2 separate regions of the Homo sapiens genome follow, and region 2 is linked to region 1. The links come from fine-mapping of genetic effects on plasma protein levels. Region 1 holds a variant in brackets. A gene starts in the other region. All regions are shown on their reverse strands.

Region 1 (5,376 bases):
CAGAAATCCAGTCCAACTGATTTGAGCCAAAAGAAAATAGGCTGGCTCACATGATTGGAAAGGCTGTCTTTGTCTTTTTTTTTTCTTTTTTTTTTCATTCTTGAAAGGTTCTCTAGCTTGGCTACACTAGCCTAAAAAGGAAAAAACAAACAAACAAAAAAAACAAAAAAAGTCCCAGATAAAACTTTTATTTGCCCAGACTTAGGTTACATGCCTACTCCAAACCTGTCCTCATGGGGATATGGTGATCTCATTGGCCAGTGGTGATCACATTCACCACTCAAGCCACATGGCCTGTGAATGGTAAAGGTGGTCCCTCAAAGGAAGAGCAATCAGAATTCTGTATGAGAAGAGGTGTGGGGGGATGGATAATAGGTAAGTAGGAAATAGCAAAGGACCCTTAGAGTCTCATGTCTTATTGCTTCTTCCTTTACGGTGTCACTTGTACTTGTTCTCTTCTTCCCATTTCCCGGGGTTACATTTGATTTTTGCCTCGGTTGTTGAAAAAGCCCCTTCACTCATCTTTCAGCTTCTTCTCTGTTTTGCACAGCCGTGTTGCATGATTCATGGGGCACCATTTATATGAACATCTCTCTGAATGCACAGTGCAACACTGTGGACCAATTTTCTCCCCAACACCGTTCCTTCCCAGGCGATGCCCTCAGACTAAGCTTCCAAAGTGTAGTTCTAAACATACCAGAATCTGCAGAGGCTACCAGGCCAGAAAAAAGTCAGATCATTGTTCAGAGCAGGATCGAGAAACACCATATTTAAAGGGTGGGAGCTGGAATGAGATAGAACAATGAAAAGGGAATAGCGACATTGTATTGGATTAGCTGATGAAGGGAACAGGAGACAGACAGTATAAGAGACAGTTTCCTAAACACATGGAGCTTTTAATATGGTAAAGGGAGAGAACCGCACAAATATCCACTGTGTATACTAGTATGTGGGAGGAGCCACAGGAGGGGTGCTGCCCAAATTTCATAGACAACCTGTGGCTGGAACAATGAGGGACAGCATCGTCAGAGAGGTGGCATTCGAGCGGGTCTTTGGAGGACTGGTAGGGTTGTATTAGCTAAAAGGAGGTGAGGAGGTGGGCAAGCGTGGCACGGAGAATGGTTCGAACAAAGACATGGCAAGTTTGGTGGGAGGTCTGAGAGCGGTGAACAGTTCAGATCGGCTATTTCACAGGGCGGACTGTAAGACTAATTTTCGGCTAGATTGTGGAGGGTGTTGAATAGCATTGGAGTTTGAAGATGACGAAGATGGTTCAGGTTGCTAAAAAAGAAATACACCCCAAGGACAAACAGACATTTATCTGGTGGCTGGGAGGGCCATTTGCCCTTTATATGCTTTCAAGAGAGGGAGGAGCTGAGTGGCCTGCATTCCTGGGATCTGGCACTGGCAAGCCCCTTTTCCAACTGAGGCACAGCGGGCATCGTCCTGTCCTTAGCATGAGGTGTTGGGCCTGTCACCTTAGCAACCAGGATTCATGCCCCAGAACACATTTTAGCCACGGCCCCAGAGCCGTCCTGATACTGAATCTTGATTCTTGGCCCCATCTTGGCTCCCCAGCCAGGCTGTGCTCATTTGGGATTTTCTACTGTAACTGAGGCGTCCCCAGGGTCTCTCTGGGGTCTTGGAGCAGGCAGGGCGCAGAGTGTCAGGGAAATACAGTGGGTCCTATTTGCATGCTCCGTGTGCGGTATCATTTCCCAGCTGATCTGAAAGGTCAGTCAGCAGATCTTGTTTGTGAAAATAGAAAGGAACATAAGTTGCTGACTATTTCTTTCTTAATTCTTTCTCTTTCCCTTCTACCCTGGGACTGGGAGTTGGGTTATGCTTCTTGCCAGGAGCTTTCCTTCCTTGTCAACTGACTGCCTCTCTTTCTTCCCCTCTCAAAGGGACGCGATGGATTTCTTGGCTGGATTTCTGATAGTTTCTGAAAGGCCTTCACTTCTCTGCTGGCAGAGGCTGGCTTCAGTGTGACTTGTGCAACATGAGACAGTATGTATCAGGACTTCACCCCAAGGTGCCCTGGGGAACACACTCCAGCAGGGCATCCCTGCTGACCCCTCAGGGGTCCCTGGAATGGGGAAGAGGGGAGGGCAGGTGGTGGAGTTATAATACATGTGGGAGGCGTGGCCAGTATAGGTGGCTTCCCATTCCCCAGGACACCAGGCCATTTGGATAAAGTCACAGATGCCTCTTCTCTGGTCCAGACTAGTTCAGAAAGTGCTGGGCAATGAACAGATGCTCAGATGTCCTGTGGAGATGATTCATTTCTGTAAGACTTTTTTCCTACTCCTCAACTGCCTTTCAACAAGAGCTTCCTTCTTCTCCTTATGTTCTGTTGCTGGCAGCAGGGTTAGGAGTAGATCTTCTAAACCAAAATGCAGATGCCTCCAACCCAGCCTTCCAGCAGAACAGATATCAATCCTTTGATTGGAAACAACATTTCTGGGCTCTGGTTGCAAGAGAAACACCCCTCCATCCACTACCTCCACAATACACACATCTCTGTGAAGGAAGCTCACCACTTATTTGTAAAAAGGATGAACACTCTTCAAGTTAAGAGAGAATCAGGTGCTGTGGTGGACCACAAGCCTGAGAATACTCAGCAGTGCAACCCAGTTCCAATGACTGACATGCTTTATGGGACCTGTTTGAGTCAGTCAGACCCAGGTAATAAATCCCAGCTCACCCACTTGCCTGTGAGCCTGGGCATGTCATATTCAGAGCCTCAGTTTCTACATCTGTTCAATAGGACGCCAGCAGTACTCAACAGTGATGTTGGAAGAATTAGACAAGCCACGTGTGCAAAGCGTTTAGTGCAGAGTGTGACACACACTAAGCACTCAATAAGTGGTAGCTACAGGTGTTATTTAGGTGGTAGTTTTGCTATTAGTGTTTGGTACTGATTAATCAAAAGGAGGAAGATGGTCTCGAAGTGGGACCCCGTGTGCTCCCGACTGCTGTTGCTCCCACGAATAGGCCAGGCAGCTGTTACAAAATGGCATTTACATGGGAGCTAATTTAACACAATATTAATTTTTAAGATGCAGCTGGGTCATCTCCGGGCTCCAGGGCCTTCCTACTCACATCTGGCACACTGCCCCACAGAGCCAGTCTTCGCCGTGACTTCCAGATTGACCTCAGGAGG[G/A]TGTTTGTGGCTTAGCTATCAAAGGGTTGTTAATTTTACACACATACCACATTAACACACACTTTAAATGGTCTCATTAGTTTTTCTGCTGATATCCAGCTTTGAAATTATTGCTCTCACTGCAGAGCCCCCACAGACATGAGCTCTCATTATTTTTAGGGAGAATACCCACACACACCCATTAATCTAGGGCAGCTGCCATTTGGGCATTCTTTGTGGTTCAATTGGTCCATTATATTGGAGAAGTGGTAAGTCAGAAACCATCATATGCTGTTCAGTTGGGACAGATGCAAGTAGAGTAACTCAATTGCACAAATGCAGGAAAAGAGCTGGCTGCATACTTAGGTGAAAAGAATCAGGTGCTGTGGTGGACCACAAGCCTGAGAATAGTCAGCAGTGCAACTCAGGTCCAATGACTGACATTCTTTATGGGAAGCCTGTGGGCATCTGTTGCTTATCCTCAACCTGGCTAATACCCCAAAGAGGAAGCATTAGATGAAAGCGGGACTTAGTACATCTAACACAATTTCAAGGGAGGTTTTATTAAAGGCTAGCTCCTGGTATAGCTCTATAACAACCCCTTTAGCTCTGAGGGTCAGAATGTTACACTTTATTTACTTTCTCTACAAAGCTCAGAACCTTTACTTCTCAGGATTTCTTTTAAGATAAAAATTACCCTATCAAGTTTTGAAGTTGTGTATGGTGCTGTGTTGAGCCCCTTACAAAGAAGAAAGGGGTAGTGGGGCCAAGCACACACACAAGAAGGTCCTGCAGCCCTGGATGCTCACTCATCTCCACTGGCCATCAGAGGTGGACATCAGTGGGCTGGTGGTTAGAATTCTCTCTTGTGCCCTCCCCTGGCCCCTGTTCTACAGGCTATGGCTGGGCAGCCTGAAAAGTATTAGTCTTCCTCTCTTTCGGGCTGGTGCCTAGAAGCAATGGCCAGCTTCCAACGGGGCTAGAGTGATGGGGACTGAGGACACGGGACTATTTGTCAGACTCAGGCCTCCCATCAGAAATTGAGGAGGCTGGAGGTAAGTCTGCAACTTCACTACCGCAGTCATCCATAAAAAGGAACCCTTGGCTAACCATAATCCACCCCGCAGCCAGATGCTGTGCAGACTCTGTGTGTGTCTCACCAGCAAACTAAATAATAATAATAAACCTCAGTTGTGGGGACCTTCCGCAGGCAGCCCTAAAGCTGCTGGCTCTGGGCCAACACCATCCAGCAAAGTATCCAGGCAGGCACTTTGCAGAAGCAGTTTCTCTGCTGGGTATCATTTAGCAGCCATCCTCCCCTTGGACTGTAAGCTCCGTCAGACCAGGTCTTTCTCACCACATGAAGGCCCAGCATAGAGCTTAGTACCCAGTAGGCACTCAATAAGTATTTGGGCTACACATAAACACACTCCTGAATTAAGAGCTTTGAGCCGCATCATCCTCTCATGGCTGTGTGTGTTTAAAAATGAAAAAATATTTCTTCCAAATAACGAAGAAAAAAAATCAAGTTCAGAACATTATGTACTTTGTGATTCCAGTTCTGCACGAGAGAGGGAGCAAGACAGAGAAAGAGGTAGGGAGAGATAGTGAGGGATGGAGAGACTGTCAGAGGTGGGGAGACCCAGAGAAAGGCTGAACCCTGAAATATGAATAGTGGTTTTCATGGGATGGTAATCAGTTTATCTTTCTTGTTTTTCTATGTATTTTCTAAAAATGTTATATATGTGCATGTATTAGAAACATTTTTTATTAAAATTGTTAACAGATAAACACTCGGAAACCTGTGTTTTATTATGGCAACTTGGCAAATAAAATGTCCCCTTATTTACAGAGTCCCTTTCATCAGCTTCAGCCACCTTATTTATGTGCCCTCCTTTCCTCCCAGGGCTGTGATTTTTATTTTAACTTGAAGAACCAGGTTGCAGAGAGGGAAGAAAAACTCACAAAGCTCCCAGCAATCTAGAGGCTGATTTTTCCCAAGCAAGCAAGTCTCTTTGGGGAGGTGAGGAACGATTGTACTGAATGAAGAGGTGATCTAAGGTCAGCATTAAATAGATGTGTTGCTTTTCCCAGAGTCGGCTGAAAAGATCAAGTGACTTCCTCTACTGAAAAGTTACAATTCGATAATTAACAGAATTTCCTCACAGCTTTATAGGCTTCAACTCTTATTCTCTGAAGTGCTGACCTCATTGCCTCCTCTCCTCTCCAGG
Region 2 (5,376 bases), not on the chromosome of region 1:
GCCCAAATTGCTGACTCTCGGGAACTATGAACTAATTGAATAGCTGTGTATTTTAAGTTTTAAGTTAATTGATTATACAGCAAAACCTAACTGATGCCCTGTCCTGATTCCAAACACTGGGTACTCATGTTAAAAGAGCATCACCGGCCAGGCATGCTGGTTTACATCTGTAATCCTAGCACTTTGGGAGACCAAGGCAAGAGGATCACCTGAGCCCAGGTGTTCGAGATCAGCCTGGGAAATAACATAGCGAGACCCTGTCTCTACAAAAAAAATTTAAAAGATCCCCAGGTGTAATGACGTGTATCTATAGTCCCAGTTACTCGGGAGGCTGAGGTGGGAGGATCACTTGATCCCAGGAGGTCAAGGCTACAGTGAGTGAAGGTCGAGACACTGCACTTCAGTCTGGGCAACAGACTGATATCCTGTCTCAAAAACAAAAAATGGCCAGGCATTGTGGCTCACACCTGTAATCCCAGCACTTTGGGTGGCTGAGGTGGGCGGATCACCTGAGGTTGGGAGTTCAAGACCAGTCTGACCAACATGGAGAAACCCTGTCTCTACTAAAAATACAAAATTAGACAGTCGTGGTGGCGCATGCCTGTAGTCCCAGCTACTCGGGATGCTGAGGCAGGAGAATTGCTTAAACCCGGGAGGTGGAGGTTGCAGTGAGCCAAGATTTAGCCACTGCACTCACTCCAGCCTAGGTGACCAGAGAAAGACTCCATCTCAAAAAAAAAAAATATTTCTGTTTCTCACTCAGCCAGTTTCCATCTCAGCTGGGCCAGCTGCACTCCACCTGGTCCTCAAGCTAATAGATTTCACTTCCCTGAAGGCCCACAAAATCTTTTTTTTCTCTTTTTTTTTTCGTTGACACAGAATCTCACTCTGTCACCCAGGCTGGAGTGAAGTGGTACGATTACGGCTCACTGCAATCCCTGCCTCCCAAATTCCAGTGATTCTCGTGCCTCAGCCTCCTGAGTAGCCGAAATTACAGACGTGTGCCACCATGCTTGGCTAATTTTTTGGATTTTTAGTAGAGATGGGGTTTCACTATGTTGGCCAGGCTAGTCTTGAACTCCTGGCCTGAAGCAATCCGCCCACCTCAGCCTCCCAAAGTGCTGAGATTATAGGCACGAGCCACTACACCTGGCCACAAAATTCTTTAAAGAAGCCAATCCCATCCTCCCTCAAGAGCCAAGGGGCCACCTCACCCTCTTGTTACAGCAGATCCTGCCTCCCACAGTCACCCTGCTCCCAAGTGCAACCTCTGTCTGACCCTGCATGGTGTGCGGTGCCCTCCTGCCTCAGGCCGTGAGTACATGCAGCTGAACTGCTGTCAGTCTTATCTGTCCAGTGTCGGGTGTTGTGTGTCCAGCCACCCATAACCCTGGGTTGGGACTCCCTCCCTCACCAACCGGGGGAAGAAGTAGTGAGCAAACCATCTACCAATTCTTATCTAGATTTATCCTCTTCAGCTGTAGCTTTTGCAATACTCTGGTCATACTCAAAGCATTCTGCTGGGATGTCACCTGAGCTGGGCCTACATGCAATTCTGCTTTTCTTCTGAGAAAATAATTTGTCATTCTTTCTGCTTTTATAATTTGTTCTATTTTAAATTATTTTTCTCATTTTTGCCTTTGCTCCTTTCTTCTCAGCATTGTATACTCAAAGGAATACCCTCATACTCTACATTTTAATCCAAGACAGAGGAAAGCAACAGGGAGAACCCCTGAGGCAGGGGCAGAGGGAGGTTCAGGGAACTGTAAATGGGAGGTAGACAAGAGACCAAACAGGACTTTAAGTTGTTTCAGCAAGTATACAGCTTAGAAAGGATCTCATTGGTCTGGGTCCTAAAATATCTCAAAGGATGGCTGCTAACTCAAAACTTTTTTTTTTTTGAGACTGAGTCTTGCTCTGTCACCCAGGGTGGAGTGCAGTGGCACGATCTCGGCTCACTGTAAGCTCCGCCTCCCGGGTTCAAGCAATTTTCCTGCCTCAGCCTCCTGAGTAGCTGGGACTACAGGCATGCACCACCACACCTGGCTAATTTTTGTATTTTTAGTAGAAACGGGGTTTCACCATGTTGGCCAGGATGGTCTCGATCTCTTGACCTCGTGATCCGCCCACCTCAGCTTCCCAAAGTGCTGGGATTATAGGCATGAGCCACCGTGCCCAGCTCAAAACTTTTTTCTCACTACTCTACAATTAAATCTCAGTTGAACTCTGGGAAGATTCTGGAATACCTAGGTTCTTTCTTTCTCAGTGTCTATTTCACCAGTAGTTGTAACCATCCTTCAACCAAACATCTCCATTTGAGTAGCATAGGCTATAATGGATTTTCTCTATTTAAGATTACTCAGCAGTGGCCGGGCACGTGGTGGCTCACAACGGTAACCCCAGGACTTTGGGAGGCTGTATTAGTCCGTTTTCATACTGCTGATAAAGACATACCTGAGACTGGGCAATTTACAAATGAAAGAGGCTTTTTTTTTTTTTTTTTTGGAGATGGAGTTTTGCTCTTGTTGCCCAGGCTGGAGTGCAACGGCAGGAGGTCAGGAGTTCGAGACAAGCCTGGCCAGTATGATGAAACCCTGTCACTACTAAAAATACAAAAATTAGCTGGGCATGGTGGCACATGCCTGTAGTCCCAGCTGCTCGGGAGGCTGAGGCAGGAGAATCGCTTGAACCCGCGAGGCAGAGGTAGTAGTGAGCTGAGATTGCACCACTATACTCCAGCCTGGGTGGCAGAGTGAGACCCTGTCTAGAAAAAAAAAAAAAAAAAAAAAAAAAAGACAATCAGACCTGCAACCATGAACTGTTTTTCATGTATTTCTCGATTTCCTTGTTTGTGTTTCCTTATTTCTGAACATGATGTATGTTTTAAATTGAAAGCTTTAGCTCACTGCAGAGTCTCCTAAGTCACATCTCTTCCTTTGCAAGAGTAGGCGAAGAAGGATCTAAGGGCTTGGCTTGTTTGAAAGAACCACACCCCGAAAGTAACATCTTTGGAGAAAGTGATACAAGAGCTTCTGCACCCACCTGATAGAGGAAGTCCAAAGGGTGTGCGCACACACAATGGTGCCTGAAGAAGAGCCTCAAGACCGAGGTAAGCACTCATCTTCTCAGTTCTAGGGAAGGTAGTAGGAGCAGGATGGAGTGGGAAACAGGCATTGAGGTGATAGGGATGACTTTGGAAGAAGAAGTAGACAGCTTTTCATAAATAATAGTAATTTCAGTATGGAAACAGGTATGGACCCAAGATACTTGGATCAGGGAAAGATGAAAGAAAAAAAGAAAGGCCGGGCGGGCGCGGTGGCTCACGCCTGTAATCCAGCACTTTGGGAGGCCGAGGTGGGCAGAGCACCTGAGGTCAGGAGTTCGAGACCAGCCTGACCAACATGGAGAAACCCTGTCTCTACTAAAAATAGAAAATTAGCCAGGCGTGGTGGCACATGCCTGTAATCCCAGCTACTTGGGAGGCTGAGGCAGGAGAATCACTTGAACCTGGGAGGCGGAGGTTGCAGTGAGCCGAGATCGTGCCATTGCACTCCAGCCTGGGCAACAGGAGTGAAACTCCATCTCAAAAAAAAGAAAAAAAGAAAAACAACTCGGGCCTAGAAGGCCTTAAAGGAATATGAATTTGGCCAGGCATGCAGGCAAATGCCTAAAGTCCCAGCTACTCAGAGGTTGAGGCAGGAGGACCACTTAAGCCTGGAAGTTTGAGGCCAAGGCTGTGCAATTCAAGGGAAAAGAGAGTAAGGAATTGGAAAGTACAGTTTACTCTGAGAGTTTTGCCTGGATTTGTCTTGGGTTCCAGGGTACTATCTGGTCATTTGTTCTGAGATAATTTCTATAATCTCTTTTTGCTTTCACATTTTTTCTGTTTTAATTAGTTTTGATCATAGCCTGACTTTATTATTCTAAGATTTTTGGGACTCTGGTTTCCTGGCTCTTTGGCAGTGGGGATTATGACTGTGCATTTGTCATGCTGATCTGACAGAGAAAGGACTCTGGTGGTTCCAGTTGAAGGTCTGGTCCATGGCAGTCGTATCCATCTTGCTCCTCAGTGTCTGTTTCACTGTGAGTTCTGTGGGTAAGTTCTTGGCTGGAGTGCAGTCATCTCTTGGTCCTTTTCCCAATCACATTTTATCAATTTCCTGAAGAAACACGTTCCTCTTTCTTTTTTTTTCTTTTTTTTTTTTTTTTTTTTGAGACGGAATCTCGCTCTGTCGCCCAGGATGGAGTGCAGTGGCGTGATCTCGGCTCACTGCAAGCTCACCTCCCGGGTTCATGCCATTCGCCTGCCTCAGCCTCCCGAGTAGCTGGGACTACAGGTGCCCGCCACCATGCCTGGCTAATTTTTTGTATTTTTAGTAGAGACGGGTTTTCACTGTGTTAGCCAGGGTGGTTTCGATCTCCTGACCTCGTGATCCGCCCACCTTGGCCTCCCAAAGTGCTGGGATTACAGGTGTGAGCCACCGCGCCCGGCCACGTTCCCCTTTCTTGACATAAAATGGCAACCCTAACTGAGAAGGCTATGTTTCTAATAAAATGAGTTATTACTATTATTAATTATTCTGGATAATTGTGTGTACTTCCAGGTTTCTTTGCCTGGTTTTAGTTGCATTTTTCAAATGTGATCATAACTGTCTTGGTCAGCTTGGGCTGCCATAACAAAATACCATAGACTGGGCCAGGCGTGGTAGCTCATGCCTGTAATCCCAGCACTTCGGGAGGCCAAGGCAGGCAGATCACCTGAGGTCAGGAGTTCAAGACCAGCTTGGACCATATAGTGAAACCCTGTCTCTACTAAAAATACAAAAATTAGCTGGGTGCAGTGACTCGCGCCTGTAATCCCAGCTACTTGGGAGGCTGAGGCAGGAGACTCAGTTGAACCCAGGAGGCAGAGGTTGCAGTGAGCCGAGATCACGCCACTGCACTCCAGCCTGGGTGACAGAGTGAGACTCTGTCTCAAAAAAAAAAAAAAAAAAAAAAAAAAGCATAGACTGAGTGAGTTAAAAAACAGATATTTATTTTCTGATGGTTCTGGAGGCTGGAAGTCTGACATGAGGATGTCAGGATGGTTGGGTATGGTGAGGTCCCTCTTCCTGGCTTACAGCTGATGCCCTCTTGCTGTGTCCTCACATGATGGAGGGAGTGCTAGCTCGTCACGGTTTCTTCTTATAAGAGCATTCATCTCACCATGAGAGCCCCCCCTCATAACCTCATCTAAACCTGATTTCCTCCCAAAGCCCCTATCTTCAAATACCACAAATTGGAGCTTGGGACTTCCATATATGAACTTGGGGAGGACGCAATTCATTCTATAACAATAACTCCACTTTGATGGGTGTGCTGATGGTGGGTACCATC

Which allele goes with the higher level. Positions count from the first base shown, and alleles are read on the strand shown. Strength reflects both the effect of a copy and how common the allele is.
With allele G in place of A in region 1, the plasma level of the protein whose gene starts at base 3,052 in region 2 is lower (weak association).

The links. PIP is the chance, under the fine-mapping model, that this variant and not a neighbour inherited with it causes the effect. The UK Biobank Pharma Proteomics Project read protein levels with antibody pairs (Olink). The fine-mapping took linkage between variants from a reference panel, not from the people measured, so its PIPs are less certain.
Region 2: it holds the start of CLEC4C, and the variant in region 1 is fine-mapped to the plasma level of the CLEC4C protein (UK Biobank, PIP 0.98).

Annotation. Positions count from the first base shown.
Region 1 is chr11:121,334,524-121,339,899 of GRCh38, reverse strand. No RefSeq gene overlaps it. Among named protein-coding and RNA genes, the nearest start is that of SC5D, 44 kb to the right of the region's middle. RefSeq lists an enhancer at 1,442-1,591 and a silencer at 2,172-2,261. The variant G/A (reference allele first, on the strand shown) is at 3,167.
Region 2 is chr12:7,745,051-7,750,426 of GRCh38, reverse strand. CLEC4C (C-type lectin domain family 4 member C) reads left to right here and starts at 3,052. Exons shown (of 6, transcript NM_001371390.1): 1 at 3,052-3,109; 2 at 4,004-4,096. The coding sequence starts at 3,079. RefSeq lists enhancers at 737-816, 997-1,176, 1,197-1,276.